Linked DNA regions of Homo sapiens. The protein of the gene in region 1 interacts with the protein of each later gene in a pairwise test. Each region holds a gene or a part of one and is shown in the gene's direction. Other genes may lie near its edges.

Region 1 (7,976 bases):
GGTCTTTTGTAGTTTCATATGTTTTTTCTATTTCTGTAAAAATGTCATTAGAATTTTGATAGCATATATTATGTAATTTCTTGAATTCCATTGAGCACAAAATGACCCTAGAACAGGTTATTAATAAGAGTTGTGTAGCAATGTTTCATTAATATAGATATTTATCTTATGGCAAGTACTTTAAGTAAAACATAATAACCCTTTAATAATCATTCTGGCCATCTGATTCTGAATCAGAATCAATATAATCCTATTTAAATCAGGCAGGTGAATTGAATGGTCTCTTGTCTACTGATTCAACCAACATGAATTTCTTAGCACCAATGAGCTAAGGAATTCAGGATGTGAAGAAAGTTATTTTGCATAGCTGGAAGACAATTTTAGGCCACAGATTACAGATATGGGAACAGATAACAGGAATATATTGGATAATCTCAATTTATATTAGGAGGCAGCAGCTGAGTGAAGGTGAGAGGATTTTCTATGGACAAAGTAGGAGGAAATTCTCAAGTGCACCATGAAAGGGTATGTGCACATGGCAGACTTATTAGTTAAATATTTGTGAATCAATATGGCATAACAAATTATTTTTTTTGAAATGATTTGACTTAGGGCCTGCATTATCCAAATGGATCACATTTAATCAGTCCTCTACTATTGTTTGCTTTTTTATATGCAGCTTGAGAGTGCTTGGATTCAAACCAAGGAAATTTTGTAATAGAACACAGATAAAAATCCAAATTTTGTAAAAGTTGAAACTTTTGCTTCCAAAGGAGACATGATTTATTTAACTGACCTTATGTAAATTAGAGTATTTAGTTTTTGTGGGATTTCAACAGTTCATACTTTTATTTATTTTTATTTTATTTTAATTTTTTTGAGACAGGGTCTCTGTCACCAAGGCTGGAGTGCAGTGACACAATCTCAGCTCACTACAACCTACAAGTAGCTCTTCCACGGTCTTTTAACCTCATGTATTAGTCAGGATTATGTTATAAAGGGAGTTGTAACTTTTGTTGGGGCTATTAACCTCCCATATTCTTTCAAAAGTAATTTTACTTATTTTGACAACTTTGCCAGAAGAGATACCCATGCTCAAACACATGCACACAGATGTATACTCTTGCATGCACAATACCCCATCTGCACAACCTCTTAAATGTACTACCGCAACTATCTAATATTCTCTTTGTATGACATTAATATAGAAACCAAAGTTTCAGCATAGTGTAAATCTGTCATTAAAATTTTTTTAACACTAATTCTTCACTTTTTATGCATCTAGAGAGTTTTCACATTTATTTCAGTGGTCACATAATAGTCCATTTTCTTGAAAGCATAAATATTTAGTAGTTTTTGACTCTTCAGAATTTAGATTGTTTTACTTTGTGGTTATGTTAATGTGGTAATTATTTGCATCTCTGTTGCCCATGCTGGAGTGCAGTGACATGATCTTGGCTCACTGCAACCACCACCTCCCAGGTTCAAGCAATTCTCCTGCCTCAGCCTCCCAAGTAGCTGAGATTACAGGAGTGTGCCATCATGCCCAGTTGATTTTTGTATTTTTAGTAAAGCCAGGATTTCACCATGTTGGCCAGACTGGTCTGGAACTCCTGACCTCAGGTGATCTGCCCGCCTTGGCCTCCCAAAGTGCTGGGATTACAGGCATAAACGACCACGCTCAGCTGAAAAGTTTTCTGTTTTAATAAAACACATCTACACAATTTTGAATTGGTAGCAAAGTCATCTAATATATGGATATAGTATACATTTTTAAACTAGTCCCTGTTCTTGCATATGTATGTGGCTTCCAATTTTTCACTTCTATAAACAGTGTGAAGATGAACATCCTTTTAGCTAAATCCTTGTATACATTACTAATTATTTCCTTAGTATAAATTCATACAATTTGGTTCTTTCAAGATTCATATGTTTTCAAAAACAGGTGGAATGTTTTTGCTGAACTGAAGTTTAACGATATGTTCCCAGAAATTTGTATTTTAAAACACATTTCACATGGGCTTATCTATGTTGAGTAATGACAGAGGCTCATATTTTCTCCTCTGTTGGGCAACTGGTCAATGTTCCTTTTTATGCATACTAGAAGTATTCTCCCACCACCCTTCCCTAAGGTAGTTCGAACAGGCTCTCTTTGTTTGCTTTTGCCTCTGTGCCCTTTCCTGGAAATGGAATGAATTGAAATGGACGAACACTCTCTACTTTCTTGGATTTACTGCATTCTTTCTTTCTCTTTATTATGCTACCTTTCTAAAACTCTGAAACTTCTACCTGTGTTCTCTTTTCAAGGTTTTATATGTTTAGTAGAAAAGTTTATCTTCAAGAATATCCAGAAAAGAGTAACAAAAAAGAGTATTGGAAAAGATGAGTAATTGAGAAATATTAATTATCCTTTAAAACCTGTTATAAAGCCAAAAGAATTAAAATGTTATGATCCCGGTGTCAGACCAGATGTTCAGATCAATAGAAATAACTGGAAAGATAACAAAGAATTAGCTTCCTTATACATAATAATTTAATGTAGGATAAGTGACTCTTTTAATAAATCAATGTAAAGGGAAGAAATTAATATGTGGCTTGGGATGACTGACTAAAAGTGGGTTTTTTTTAAACTTCTTAAGTAGAAGTTCTCAAACTTTTTGGTTTCATGATCCCATCACACTCTTCAGAATTATTGAAGATCCCAAAGAGTTTTTGTCTATGTCTATTTTAAATCTATCAATATTAGCTATATTTTAAATTTAAACTGAGAAATTGTTAAAATATTAATTTGGTGATTCATTTAAAATAACAAAAACCTCTTACATGCTAACATGATACATAGTTTTCTAAAACATTAACTATATTTATTTTATAAAAAGAAGAGGACTGCCTGATTTTAAGATTAATCAATGAAGCCACAAAAAGGATAAACAGATTTGAATGTACCATAGCAAAATTTAATGTCTCATTTTTTAAAAGTGTAACTCAAATGTGAATATAATGTAAACATCAATATACAACACAACTATAAATAATTTTAATATTTAAAGAACTGACACAAATCAATAAGAATGAGTGTCACATAGGTTAATCAGGACAGAACATAAAAGTTTATAGGATAAAATAAATGGAAAAACTCTCAAACATAAAAATGTAAATGTAAAAACATAAAAATGTAAACCTAAAACAACCATTAGAAATGTTAGATTACAGATAAAAGGGTAATGAAACTTACATTCTCATAAATTATAGTTAGAAATATATTTTGCTACAAAATTTGAGGAAACAGTTGAATAACATGCATTTATAGCCTTAAAATATGCATGTCCTGTGTCATCTGAACATCTGTGTTAACAGAATCTATGTGGAAAAATGCTGTGTGGAAGAAAGTGCTTATGGTGGCACTATTTACCACAGGAAAAAAAGTAGGGAATGATTACATTAATTATTGTTTAATGTACCCAATGGAAGATTAAACAGTCATTGGAGGAAGAAATATTCACCATGAATATACAATAAAAAGGGAAAACAGGTTATGAAGTTAAGAGAACTAAGAAAGATTAAATTGGTTATTCAGGAGGATCAAAACTATGTTTAAAGTTTAACAACAACAAAATATCTCCTATTAATACTAAGTAAACATACTGGAAAGAAATCTAGCTAGTTAATGACTGTCTTTGGGTGTCAGAACTCTGGATTTTCTTTTCTAGTTTTTCTGCTTTTCAGAATTTTCCAAACTTTTTGTAGAGATAAGTTTTTATCATACAAAAGAATATACTCTTTAATTTAAAAAATACTTATTTTGTTTTTATTTTTTTTCGGCACAAACACCAACCAAGCCTCTGGTTGAAAGCTAGGAGAAAAGGCTGTGTGCTTTAGACCTCCTGCTATAGATGTGTTGCCTCTGGACTCCTCCTTTCTCTTTAAGATTATGTATTCCTGGCACCCACTTAGCTCTGAGCACCTTTCTTGAATTACAACACAGAGTCCTGCCTTCTCTTCCTTTTTTAAAGAAAGCCCCACTTCTAGATTATCAGATGAAGCTTGTTTTGGCTTCACACCATCCAGGTGAGGTGGGCTGGCCAGGCTCAATTCTGTCTACCTGAGAGATGCAGTTCTTGCAACACACAGAAGTTGTAGCTTCCCTTTGCTAGTGATCTGTGTTCTCATTCTGCAACTGTTTTGCCTCCCTCTTGATCTTTCACTTCATCTGTCATGTAAGTAAAGATAGGGACTGTTTAGGCTGGGCGTGATGATGTCTGCTTGCTCAGAGGGTTTCTTGACAGAACCAGCTCCAGCATTCATTCCTTCATGCTATTTATCAGTCTGGCAGTTGCTGCTGCTGCAACAGGCACCTCTTTCTTGTCTCCTCCCTGTTGCTAGTGGTAATTCTGTTACTGAGGACCTGTATGAAGTTCTCCTCCCTTTGCTAACCTGCTTTATAGGCTACAACAGTCAGCAGCCTCCAAGTCATGATCACAGGTCAACAGCAACTTAAGAGGACTTTGCGGTGGGAAGGGGAAGGGCTGTGGTTGTCCTGACTGAAGGCCCATCCCTGTGCTGCCCCCAACCCTGCTCTCAAATACACATCACGGCCCTCTGTGGCTGATTCCAGAGTCAGTAATGACCTCTCTAGCCTCAGTTCCAATGGAAGTAAAACAGACAGGATTGGGATCTCACAGGTCTCTCTATTTTAAAATGATAGAAGGTACCTGCAAAAGCTTCACTGTCTTCCCAGTCTTGGATTTGAGTCTCTCCAGCTCTCCCAGTTCTGAAATTGCCAAATCTCAAGCAATACTCAGCTGCCACTAGAGCCAACAGGGGTTCTCCTGGGTTAAAAAAATGATGACATCCCTACCCATACTCCACTCATAGCTACCAGTAAAAGACATATTTTTATTTTTCTTCGAGACAGAATGTCACTCTGTCTCCCAGGCTAGAGTACAGTGGCACAATCATAGCTCACTGTACCCTCAACCTCCTGGGCTCAAGCAATCCTCCTGTCTCAACCACCCAAGTAGCTGAGACTACAGGTGCACCATCATCCCCAGCTAATATTTTTCATTTTTTTGTAGAGACAAGGTCTTCCTATGTTGCCTAGGCTGGTCTCAAACTCCTGAGCTCAAAGGATCCTCCGACCAAGGCCTCCCAAAGTGCTAGGATTACAGGCATGAGCCACCACACCCAGCAGAAGACATGTTTTTAATTGTAAGGTGTTTATGCTTTGGATAAGTAAACCTAAAGTAAAAGTTTTTCAAATATCTTGAGGACATTTCAAAATTATACACGGTTAAATAGATGTGGCTTATGATGATGGGCAGTGGGAATTACCTAATAAAATATCTCTACCTTAGTAAAGTTGGTAGCTATCTAGCAATTATAAAACTTGGGAGATCTCTTTGTCCTGTGATTCCTGAACATGGTGATGATAGGGAGATTTTGTGAAATGGGTTTTAGTTCTTTGTATAGTTTATAGATCATGAAAATCTGTTGTCATATGAATCAGGAAGGATAATGTAGACTACCTGAGGAAACACATTGTTTATCCTCATTTCCACAAGCACTGTGACCCCAAACACAAACCCAACCAAACAAATACACAACACTTGCCTTTTCCTGTGTCTTCCTAACCAGTCGTTTTTCATTTGTTTCTTTCCTAATAACCGGTGCTGGACTGAGGAAAGAAAAGTCCACTGCCCCTGCTCTAACACTGTCATTAGTATCCACAAGAACAGGACATCCTCTGCCCCTCTTCTCAGTGCTACCATGGCCATTGTCCCTGTCTCAGAGTCCAATTTTTCTGTTTCATAACCTGAGCCTCCACTGTAGTTTCTGCCTTCAAGAACTCTGGCCACAAACCCTAATATCAAACATCAAAAGGTACATTAGAAGGGACTTATACTAGTTTCTAAAATTTTGACATTTAGCTAATATTTCCTTCCATATAACTGAATATATGTACATGTGAATCAGAATTATATAATTTCCTCTATGTAACCAAATATATGTATATGGAAATCAGAATTATATAGATACTATATTATTAGATTTTATATTATTTATAATTAGATATTATATAATTATATAGATATTAAAAATTAGATTTTCTCACATTCAATTATAAAAGGTATATCTTCACCACAATATAATTGTAGCATCATTTTTAGTGGCCCAAATTCTCTTTAAAGTATATTTCAAAAAAATGATTTGCAGCTGATTTTTCTGTTATAGAATTACATCATTCCTTCTGGTGACTTGTTGATGTTGTCTCCATTTTGGCTGCATAGAAATCCAAAGTATTTTCCTGAGCCTGAATTGTTCAAACCTGTAAGTTATCTCTTTCAGTATATATTATTCTTTCATTTTAATTTCTTTTTATTTCAGAAGGGTAAATTCAGAAATTAATTAGGACTATATAATTAAGCAGCCATATTTCTCTCGTAACTAAGAACAAAGTTGACTACAAAGTACAGAACAGATTTGCAATATAGATAGTGCAACATTTACAAATCAGTTAGAAAAGTTTTTGTAGTAAACTTCTCTAACTTTAAAATACATTTTACATGAAACCAGAAGGGCATGTTCAAGTGAATAAGCCTGTTTTTGATAGAAGACTTATTTCATGTTCTTCAGGCAATTGCTTCTGTCATTGGTTTCCAAGGAGTACAAAAAAATACAAATAAAGCAAATTAAAACCGTGATCTGCTGTTTCTTAGAACTGGAAAGTTACAGGGCCGAACAGAATGTTAAGAGGTCATTTAGTCTGTTCTCTGCCTTTAGGTAAAACTGTCAAAAATGGCATCCAGATGCATTCATTCTGCATCCCAAGCTTTTTCTAACAGGCAGGGATGTCAGTGTCTTACTACTAAATTTATTACCAAGAGCAATTTTATGACGGAGCCTGAGACCTTATTATAAATATTCTTCCTCTTCTTAGGTCAATTCTGTGGTTGATTTACCTTATCATTTACATTTACCACTTAACAGAATTTTTTAAAAACCTTTTTATTTATAAGTTCATGTTCCAGAAACACAATTGTGTCTAATATTAATAACAGGGTGGAAAAAATTACCAACAACCCTGCAACTTTATATGCAAGGATTAGCTGTACAAGGTCATTTTTAGCCTAGAGAAATAAAGTTAAGCTTATTTATATAAGGCTGATTTGGAAAAAAAAATGTTTTCTTCCCACAGGAACGTTGGAAAAAGGCAAATTTAGAGAAGCACTCTTTCTTGGACTGCTTCATGGCATTTGGAAGCGGGAAGTTCCAGTGTCCTGCAAGGTCAGTGAGACAGCTGGGCCACATTTATCCAGAAAGTCTGCAGAAAGATGATGGCTCAGAGGGGAACAACTTTGGCTTAATCTCTTTATATATATATTTAAACTATAGGGAAATCCAGAAGAACACATTTTGTCTGGTTTATCTGTGGTCCTGTGCAGTGTCTCTCTGGGAATATCTAAAGTGGCTTCTGATAGAAGACCTTATGAGAAGAGAACATTACACTTGCCAGATGCCACATCAAAGCAGCGTTTATGGTTCAAATTGTCAGCTTTCACACAAACATAATTGGAAGTGGTTTGAGTGCTACCTTCTTTAAAAACAAAGATAGAATTATATTTCTTTCACTATGACATTGTCATGGATATTTGCTAGGGTTCTAGAAAATCTTTGGCTTGGAGCATAGCAGGCACTTACTAGGTGGTTTTTGTCTATGGTGTTAGTTTGGCTTGTGAAAACTTTCTTTTGATACCTTTTATAGTTAAATTAATCTGGCACCCAGCCCTCCTCCTCAGTGTGATACCCTGTTCTAATGCAAGTGTCCATTGTTTAATGAAAGTTATTGTTATCTTTATTTGTTCAAGCAGAAAAGGTTTTTGAACATCTCATCTGTGCCAGGCCCTCTTCTAAGCTTCAGAGAGCACTGAGGAAGACCAACATGGTCCCTGACTTCATAGAATTTACAATCTACATTA
Region 2 (8,401 bases), on another chromosome or scaffold:
CACAGGTTCACTTTAGCTTTTCTAGGAAATAACAAAATTCCTTAAATTTCCTTTGACCCAGATTTAGTATAACTTCAAAGGAAGGAGATTTTTTTCACATTTATGATTTTATTTTGGTTTTACACAAGTAAATTTTGGAAGACTATGTTTCTTTGCCTCTAGAAGGGTGAGACAGCTGCCTGATTTTTGGCAGTTACATGCATGTATTCTGTGCAGCTACATGATGACAAACGTGATCTTTGCTGCTTTTGCCCAAGCACTTATTTTGCCAGTCCAGTCATAGTGAAATGTGGGATGCCATTTCTAAGAGCACATATTAAGGGACTTTTTAAAAGGAGGAACCTTCACGAAATACTTCACTTCCTAAAGGCTTTATTGGATGAAATCTTCAGAGACCAGCTAATGCTCAACTTAAAGGTTTTCTTAGAAAATGTTCAACCATCCAATCCTGTTATCATTAATACATTTTAATTTATATGAAAACAATGAGTTTCTCATAATTAAGGTAAGATTCTTATGCTTCATCCAAATGGCTTGATAAGAAAAAAATGCAAACAAACCATGAATAGTTTCAAGGAAGATAGAGAAATAATCATAAGGGCTGTAAGCTCTTTGTAGTCAGGAATGATGCTTCTTGTCTAGCAGTACTACAGGTGGAACATATTCAATAATATTAAAAGATTATTTGATGGTAATACTGATTTACCATAATGTTTTTATTCTAAGTTGTTTCATATTAATAAATCAATGCTGTGTGTTACAGGACAGTTTTTAATAAGTTTAGTCTGGGTATAGATAGACTGATTTTTCCATTAAGTACTGACTAGACTGAGAAAGTAAGTACTTCTTTTGGACGTGGGGGACCAAGAAACACCTTTGTCATTACATAACCATACAAGGTACACATACTTTTTACTTGTCAAATAATCAGTCAGTGCTTTTCCCTCCTAAAGATATTTATTCTTCAATGGTGTATCTGAGAGACAGAATGTCCTGGGTAGCCTGTTTTTTTCCACAGATTTCATCCAAGATATCAGAAATCTATCTCTTTCAAAGTTTACCAAGTAAATATTTGTCTGCAAGGCAAGTAAATTAAACAAAGGGAAGAAAGGAAAACAATTATCATTAAACAGTATTACCATTCTATTGAAAAATGGTTTCATTTGAAAATAGATGTATTTTAAGAAGTGAATGGTAACTAATGGAGGAAATCAGCATGTGTTCAGGTAGAAGTGCAGCAGCCCTGGGCACCATCCCCTTGCCACTGGGCATACCTTGTCTAACCAGTGATAGAGCTGAACCACATGGTCCTGTCCCCCTGTCAAAAGTTATGGTTAGTTTAATCCTTGCTCCTCGGGAGGCTAAGGCAGCAGGATTGCTTGAGTCTAGGAGTTTGAAGCCAGCCTGGGCAACATAGCAAGATCCTGTCTCTTAAAAAAAAAGTTATGGTTATATGTGTGTGTGTGTGTGTATGTGCACGCGTGTGTGCGTGTGTGTGTGTGTATTTGGAGTCTCCTCTGTCATCCAGGCTGGAGTGCAGTGGTGCCATCAAAGCTCAATGCAACCTCGAATTCCTATGCTCAAGCTATTCTCTCACCTCAGCCTCCCAAGTAGCTAGGACTAAAGGCGTGCCCCACCATGCCTATTTTTATTTTTTGGAGAGACAGGGACTCACTATGTTGCACAGGCTGGTCTCAAACTCCTGGCCTCAAGCGATGCTCTTGCCTCAGCCTGTAACCCAAAGCCCTGGGATTACAGGGGCATGAGCCTAGAATTTATTAAGCCTTTTATTTTTAACATGAATGTTTTTCTTTTATAAAATTTATACAGGTTAGCAAGTATATATTCCTTGGTACAATTATTTGGTTAATGTTTGTCTCCCCTTTCATGGCAACAAAGACTGTACTGTTTTGCTTACCAATGTATTCACAGGGGCTGACATTATTGTAGGTGCTCAGTATATAGTACGTTTGTTAGAGAATATATGAGAATGCAGAAAGAAATGGATGGAAGACAGGGCTATAGAAATGGAAGGAAAAAGTAAACCATGGCCTCTTCAAAACAGTTTACGTATCTGCTGTTAAGACTATTGCTGATGCTGGAGCCATTTAAAGCCATTTTGAAGCAGGACATGCTTGCTAAGGAAATTGTCATTATATGTTGTCCCAATGAAAAAAAATAAATCGAAGTACTGTGGTATCTTTACTGTTCTATGTAAGTTCTATGTAAGTTCTCAGGGTTTGGCTATTTATTTGGTAAAAGAAGCTTACAGTATCCTAACTTGTTATTTATACATTGCTCCTATCCCATTTCTAGGCTTGAGTCTTTGATAACCATCCTTTTCCTCAAGATGAAATTTCATATGAAAAACACTTGAGCCGGCCGGCACGGAGGCTCACGCCTGTAATCTCAGCACTTTGGGAGGCCGAGGTGGGCAGATGATTTGAGGTCAGGAGTTCTAAACCGGCCTGGCCAACATGGTGAAATCCCGCCTCTACTAAAAGTACAAAAATGAGCCGGGTGTGGTGGTGAGCGCCTGTAATCCCAGCTACTCGGGAGGCTGAGGCAGGAGAATTGCTTGAGCCGGGGAGGTGGATGTTGCAGTGAGCAGAGATCGCGCCACTGCACTCCATCCCAGGCAACTGAGCGAGACTCCTTCTCAAAAAAACAAACTCCGGGCGCGGTGGCTCACGCCTGTAATCCCAGCACTTTGGGAGGCCGAGGTGGGCGGATCACGAGGTCAGGAGATTGAGACCATCCTGGCTAACATGGTGAAACCCCGTCTCTACTGAAAATACAAAAATTAGCCGGGCGTTGTGGTGGGCGCCTGTAGTCCCAGTTACTCAGGAGGCTGCGACAGGAGACTTGCGTGAATCCGGGAGGCGCAGCTTGCAGGGAGCCGAGTTTGCGCCACTGCACTCCAGCCTGGGCGACAGAGCGAGACTCCGTCTCAAAAACAAAAAACAAAAAAACAACAACAAAAAAAGAAAAACACTTGAGCCATGGGCCAGACATATCAACCCAAACACTGATTGATTACAAACCTCATATGTGACACCTAACAATAGGATCTCTCACTTTCTCCTTTGCAAGTACCGGACTCCTTCGTCTTCCTACCAGACTCCTCTTTGGGCATTTAACCAGTTCTTTTGCCAACAGCATCTCTAAATTGGGATTGCATCTTTGTAATAGACTAAACTTTTGTGAAACTGCCACATATCTGGAATATAAGTGAATTGTGTTACTCTTGTCCCCAGTGTTTCTTTTTTCCTTTTTCTTTCTTTTTTTTTTTTTTTTGAGACAACGTTTCATTCTGTTGCCCAGGCTGGAGTAAGTACAGTGGCTTGATTTCAGCTTACTGCAACCTCCGCCTTCCAGGTTCCAGTGATTCTCCTGCCTCAGCCTCCTGAGTAGCTGGGACTACAGGCGCACACCACCCTACTCGGCTAATTTTGGTATTTTTTTTTGTAGAGACAAGGTTTCACCATGTTGGCCAGGCTGGTCTCGAACTGCTGACCTCAAGTGATCCACCGGCTTCGGCCTCCCAAAGTGCCGAGATTACAGGCATGGGCCACCGCGCCTGGCCATCCCCAGTGTTTCTAAACGTGTCAAGTGTGATCCAAATTTCAAAGGTTTGGATTTTTTCTTAGATGACCTGATAACTTAGATTCTGCTTTTTTAGCTTTCTTGTCTCAGTGTACTGGACAATTTGCATTATTTCACGGAGGGCTCAACACTGTCAGTCAGCCAACAACGTCTCATCCCCAGGATACACCACTCCTTGAAACTTTCTTTTCTACTTGGTCAGTCTGTTAGGTTCTCAGGACGAGCGATTGCAGACCTGAGGTGATTTGAATGTCCTTGGTAAGAATCTATCCTCAAAGGGCCTTCCTGCTTCAAATGCCAGGTTATAGAAATTCTTCCACTGGGAGAGTTATTCCTTTGGATTAAAGCAGTACCGTGCCAGTGTTCTGCATTTTACATTTAAGGGGGGCAGACACATGAAGTCACCTTTCTGAGGTTTTCTGCAAAAGATTAGCTGTGGATCAGATCAGGTCTAGGGCAAGTATGAAAGCACTAGTGACCTTGGGGAGGGGGAGGAAGCTCTGGGATTCGGCGCTAGGGAAAAGTGGAAGAGGACAAACTTTTAAAAAATCCGTTACTGGGTATAGGCCACAGAGTGTCTTTCAGATTACAAGATTTTAAGATCTGGTGCTCAGACTCTTCTTGCTATGCTCCCCCCGGGTCCACCCTCCAGCCTCCCCCAGGCCCGCCTTTCTTCCGCAGCCCCGTGCCGGTCTTCGATCCCCACCTCTCCAGAAGAGCGCCGGCGGCTGCCGCGTACCTCCTTCCCCGCCTCTCCCACCGCGCAGCGCCGCGGGCCGGCGCCGCGCTTCCTACAGTCCTACGAAGGGGAGTAAAGCAGAAGACTAGCGCACTCTCCCTCAATTGTCACCCTCCAGCTTTTTCCCCCGTGCCCAAGGCTTTCGGTCACCTCTTCATAAATAATAAAAACCAGAGTCCAGAACCTGAATAGGCAACCGCTGATCGGTCCAGCTCGCTTCCCCGCCAGTGAAAAGCAATCTTATTTCAGCGTCAACGCTCTATGTCTTGCAGTCCGATTTCGGCTGACACACCCGTGCCGCTGTCCCCGCGCCGGGCCCTCGAGTCCTGTCACCTCGGGCAGCCTGCGCCTGGCTCTGGGGCCTGGGCCTCTCCCCTCCTCCTGCCCGCGGACCTTGCCGCCCCGCCTCCAGCCCGTGCCACGGCGGCCGCCATTGGCGCGGGCCCATCCCAGAACGGCGCCCATTGGCCCGGTGCGAAGCCATTCACCCAGCGCATTCCGCCGCCCGCAGGCTTGCGGGGAAACTTCCTTATTATTGTGACGCCGAAAACGGAGAAACCCCGGGTCCGGCGAGAGGGGCTGTGACAGTCGGAGTCCCAAGCTGCGGTTCGGCTGCTGCCGAGGTGCGCAGGGCGGGGGCCGGGGTTCCAGGGAGGGGGGTACGGCGGAGCTGCAGCCGCGCTGGGCCGCGTTCCGCCTGGCACTGCAGTCAGCGCGCGGCTCCCGGAGGGGCGGCTGCGGCTCCTCCCGTGGCTCCGGCGGCGGGGGCTGCAGGCACCTCCAGAGACGACCTGGGTCTGGGGCGCGGGGAGGTTGGGGCGCGGCGCCCTTAGTACCCTGCGTACGCCTCCCTGGCGTTCTCGTGGGCTCGCCCTCCGGTCAGAGAGCCCCGCGCCGGGAAAGGCGAGACAAGCCTTCAAAATGGGAGCGCCTCCCGCCCGCGCTCGGCCGCCCTCCCGCCCTGCCGCCCGGGAGGAATTGCGACGCAGAAAGTCAAAAGGAGGATAGTCCCTATGCTCGCCCCCTGCCCCTATTTAAATTCTGGGGTTCCAGGGACCTCCGTGCAGTGAGGGGCGCGGACGCTTTCAATTGAAATGGGAGCTGGCGAGGCCCTGGCATTTTGGGGAACCTCAGCGGCCGCGAGGAGTTTGCGCCGAGGACGCGGTGCACGGCGTCCGCGATGACAGCGCCGGCAGGGCTGCGGGGCCCGGCACCACCCACTTCGCGGAGGCCGGGCCGGCTCGCCTCTCCCGGGTCCGCCTCCTGGGCGGGGCCGGGGGCGAGGGTGTGTGCGGACACGTGTGTACGGGTGTGTGTGTGTGTGTACGCCGACACGTCGGTGCGGACCGACGCGGGGGTGTCAGGAGCTGGGACGGCCGGGGGCAGGTGAGACTTGAGTCATTTGTGAATGTGTGGAGTGGGCAAACCAGGGCAACCAGACCGAGAGGAGCATGTGTAACCTGAAACAGGTGAGCCTATGGAGACAGTACCTAATGCGACTGTGCACGGAATATGTGTATGCAGCATGAGCTCCAGGGAATAAGTATTTGAACTTTGCTGTTGGTCTGTCACTGTTTCTGGCTGCTTTCTGATTGCATTTTACATCAGCTTTCAAATGAGCTCAATTAGGAAGTACCTAATTCAGAGAAAAGCCTTCCAGGATTTTGCTTGCATTCATCACGCATAGAATGCTTTGGGAAAGACGATTCAAGAGCTCTCTTCCATTTGTATGTGTCTTCTGGCTCTTTCCACAAATAAGAAGCTATTTCTAGAACCTTTTATTTGATGATTAGATAAGATCAAGTGAGCTGATTTTTCAACTCTAGACTTGAGAGAAATGAAAAAATAAAAAGTTTTAAATGCGGTGATCGGGTATCATGTTTTAGTCGGCAGATTACTGTGAAGCTCTCTCCTTTTGTACTTTCCTTTACCCTGGGGGAGGAGGGAGTAGCATTATAAATCAGAAAAGCAAAGTACATGGATTGCATATCCTAAAGCAAAATAATTGAATTACATATTTTACATCATGGTCGTACCGCCTTCGAGGCTAGGAACTTTCTGTAAAAAGTATAATGCAGGGAACAAGGAGGACAGGTTAGAAACCTCTTTGGCAGAACTCCTTTGGCATGAAAAACAAAATTAGCACATTAGCACTAGCATCCAGTTCTTGTTCAGTAAGTAGCTGGAGTTTACTTTTTGAAAAAGAAACAGGGATTTCAGAATGTTCCATGTTGTGTGCTTGAAGCCATTCGTTATAGCATTTCATTCTGAAGACCAAATTTAAATTTCTTAAGATTTGTATGACCAATTAAAAACTTTTTTTATACTTAATGAGAGTAGTAGTACCCCTACTGGAGACACAAGATAGTTATGCTTCAGTTTTATAAGTAAAAGTACTATTCTCCAGATCGAATGGGATTTTCTGCATAGAGAGGTAGAAATAAAGTTATGACAATATCTTTTCTTTCGAGATGGGGGGTCTCGCTCTGTTGCACAGGCTGGAGTGCACTGGTGCGATCTCGGCTCACTGCAACCTCCGCCTCCCAGGCTCAAGCGAATCTGCCACCTTACCCTCCAAAGTAGCTGGGACCACAGGCGTGCACCACCATGCCCAGCTAATTTTTTGTAGTTTTTGGTTTCGCCAAAAGACGAAACGGGGTTTTGCCATGTTGCTCAGGCTGATCTCCAACCCCTGGGCTCAGGCTGTCCACCCGCCTGGGCCTCCTAAAGTGCTTGACAAAAATATCTTAAAATCATGGAGGACTTTTTCTTTTGAGATACTTTAGGTATCTCTCTGAGATGATCTCTTCTCATTTTGCATGATGGAGGATGTGGTAATGAAAAGGGAAAGACCGGGTGCAGTGACTGGCTGGGCGCAGTGGCTCACACCTGTAATCCCAGCACTTTGGGCGGCTTGAGACGGGTGGATCACTTGAGGTCAGGAGTTGGAGACCAGCCTGACCAACATGGTGAAACCCCTTCTCTACTAAAAATAGAAAAATTAGCTGGGCGTGGTGGCGGGCGCCTGTAATTCCAGCTACTTGGGAGGCTGAGGCAGGAGAATCGCTTGAACCTGGGAGGCAGAGGTTGCAGTGAGCCGAGATCGGCCACTGCACTCCAGCCTGGGTGAAAGAGCCAGACTCTGTCTCAAAAAAAAAAAAAAAAAAAAAAAGAAAAGGAATGAAAGGAGACAGTCTTCATAACAGTTGTGGCAAAACAAGCTGCTATGTGTCATACATGGAAAAATAAAGAAAATAGACAAAATTTAATTATTTTCCAAAATTTTCTCTAACAAAAATGGGAGATTTTAAAGTAATTCCATTTTTACTACTCCCTATCAAATGTCAGGAATTTTTATAAGGTGATATCTATATCTCTAGTTCACTTTTAGAGGTGATTGATGTCTTTATAACTGGTTAGAGGTTATCTTACTGGTATTTAACCAAACTCCTGTCTTGAGATACAATGCGTGGGGAATATTCAAGATTGAGTAATTTAAAGATATTCTTATTTTCAGAGGTTAACTCCTGTCTTTTTGTTTACAGTAACATGAAGACACAACAGAGTTCCATACTAATGTTATTTATTATTTCTTTAACTTGCAGAACTGCAAGGTGTGGAATATTTCTGGCTTCTAGTCCAATGCCAAGTGTGTGACCTGTGGTGAGTTACTTAATTTTTCTGGACCTCAGTTTTTCATCTTGTAAATGGAGTCCTTTACATGCATTATCCTGTTTAATACTCTCATCAACTCAAGCTAGGGTAGCTACCTAGAGAGGGACCTAAACAAATCTCAGTGCCTTCCTGCTGCTCTAAGATAGTGAAGAGAACAAGGTGAGCCCAAGAAGTAGGAGACCTGGTTTCTGGTCTCTGCTTCAAGCACTTAATTCTTTTTTTTTTTTTTTTTTTTTTTTTTTGAGAGGGAGTCTGGCTGTCGCCCACGCTGGAGTGCAGTGGCGGGATCTCGGCTCACTGCAGGCTCCGCCCCCCGGGGTTCATGCCATTCTCCTGCCTCAGCCTCCCGAGTAGCTGGGACTACAGGTGCCCACCACCTCG

Evidence for each region. The genes of interacting proteins can lie anywhere in the genome.
Region 2: the proteins of CYP39A1 (region 1) and HERC3 interact in binary tests that used the Homo sapiens proteins (3 or more experiments, as listed by UniProt).

Annotation. Positions count from the first base shown.
Region 1 is NC_000006.12:46,586,385-46,594,360, reverse strand, and holds part of CYP39A1 (24-hydroxycholesterol 7-alpha-hydroxylase), read left to right. Parts: intron 1-6,231; coding exon 6,232-6,327; intron 6,328-7,195; coding exon 7,196-7,284; intron 7,285-7,868; coding exon of another isoform or gene 7,869-7,881; exon of another isoform or gene 7,882-7,976. UniProt on the Homo sapiens protein: A cytochrome P450 monooxygenase involved in neural cholesterol clearance through bile acid synthesis. Catalyzes 7-alpha hydroxylation of (24S)-hydroxycholesterol, a neural oxysterol that is metabolized to bile acids in the liver.
Region 2 is NC_000004.12:88,587,607-88,596,007, forward strand, and holds the start of HERC3 (probable E3 ubiquitin-protein ligase HERC3), read left to right. Parts: upstream 1-4,873; 5' UTR 4,874-4,968; intron 4,969-7,950; 5' UTR 7,951-8,008; intron 8,009-8,401. UniProt on the Homo sapiens protein: E3 ubiquitin-protein ligase which accepts ubiquitin from an E2 ubiquitin-conjugating enzyme in the form of a thioester and then directly transfers the ubiquitin to targeted substrates.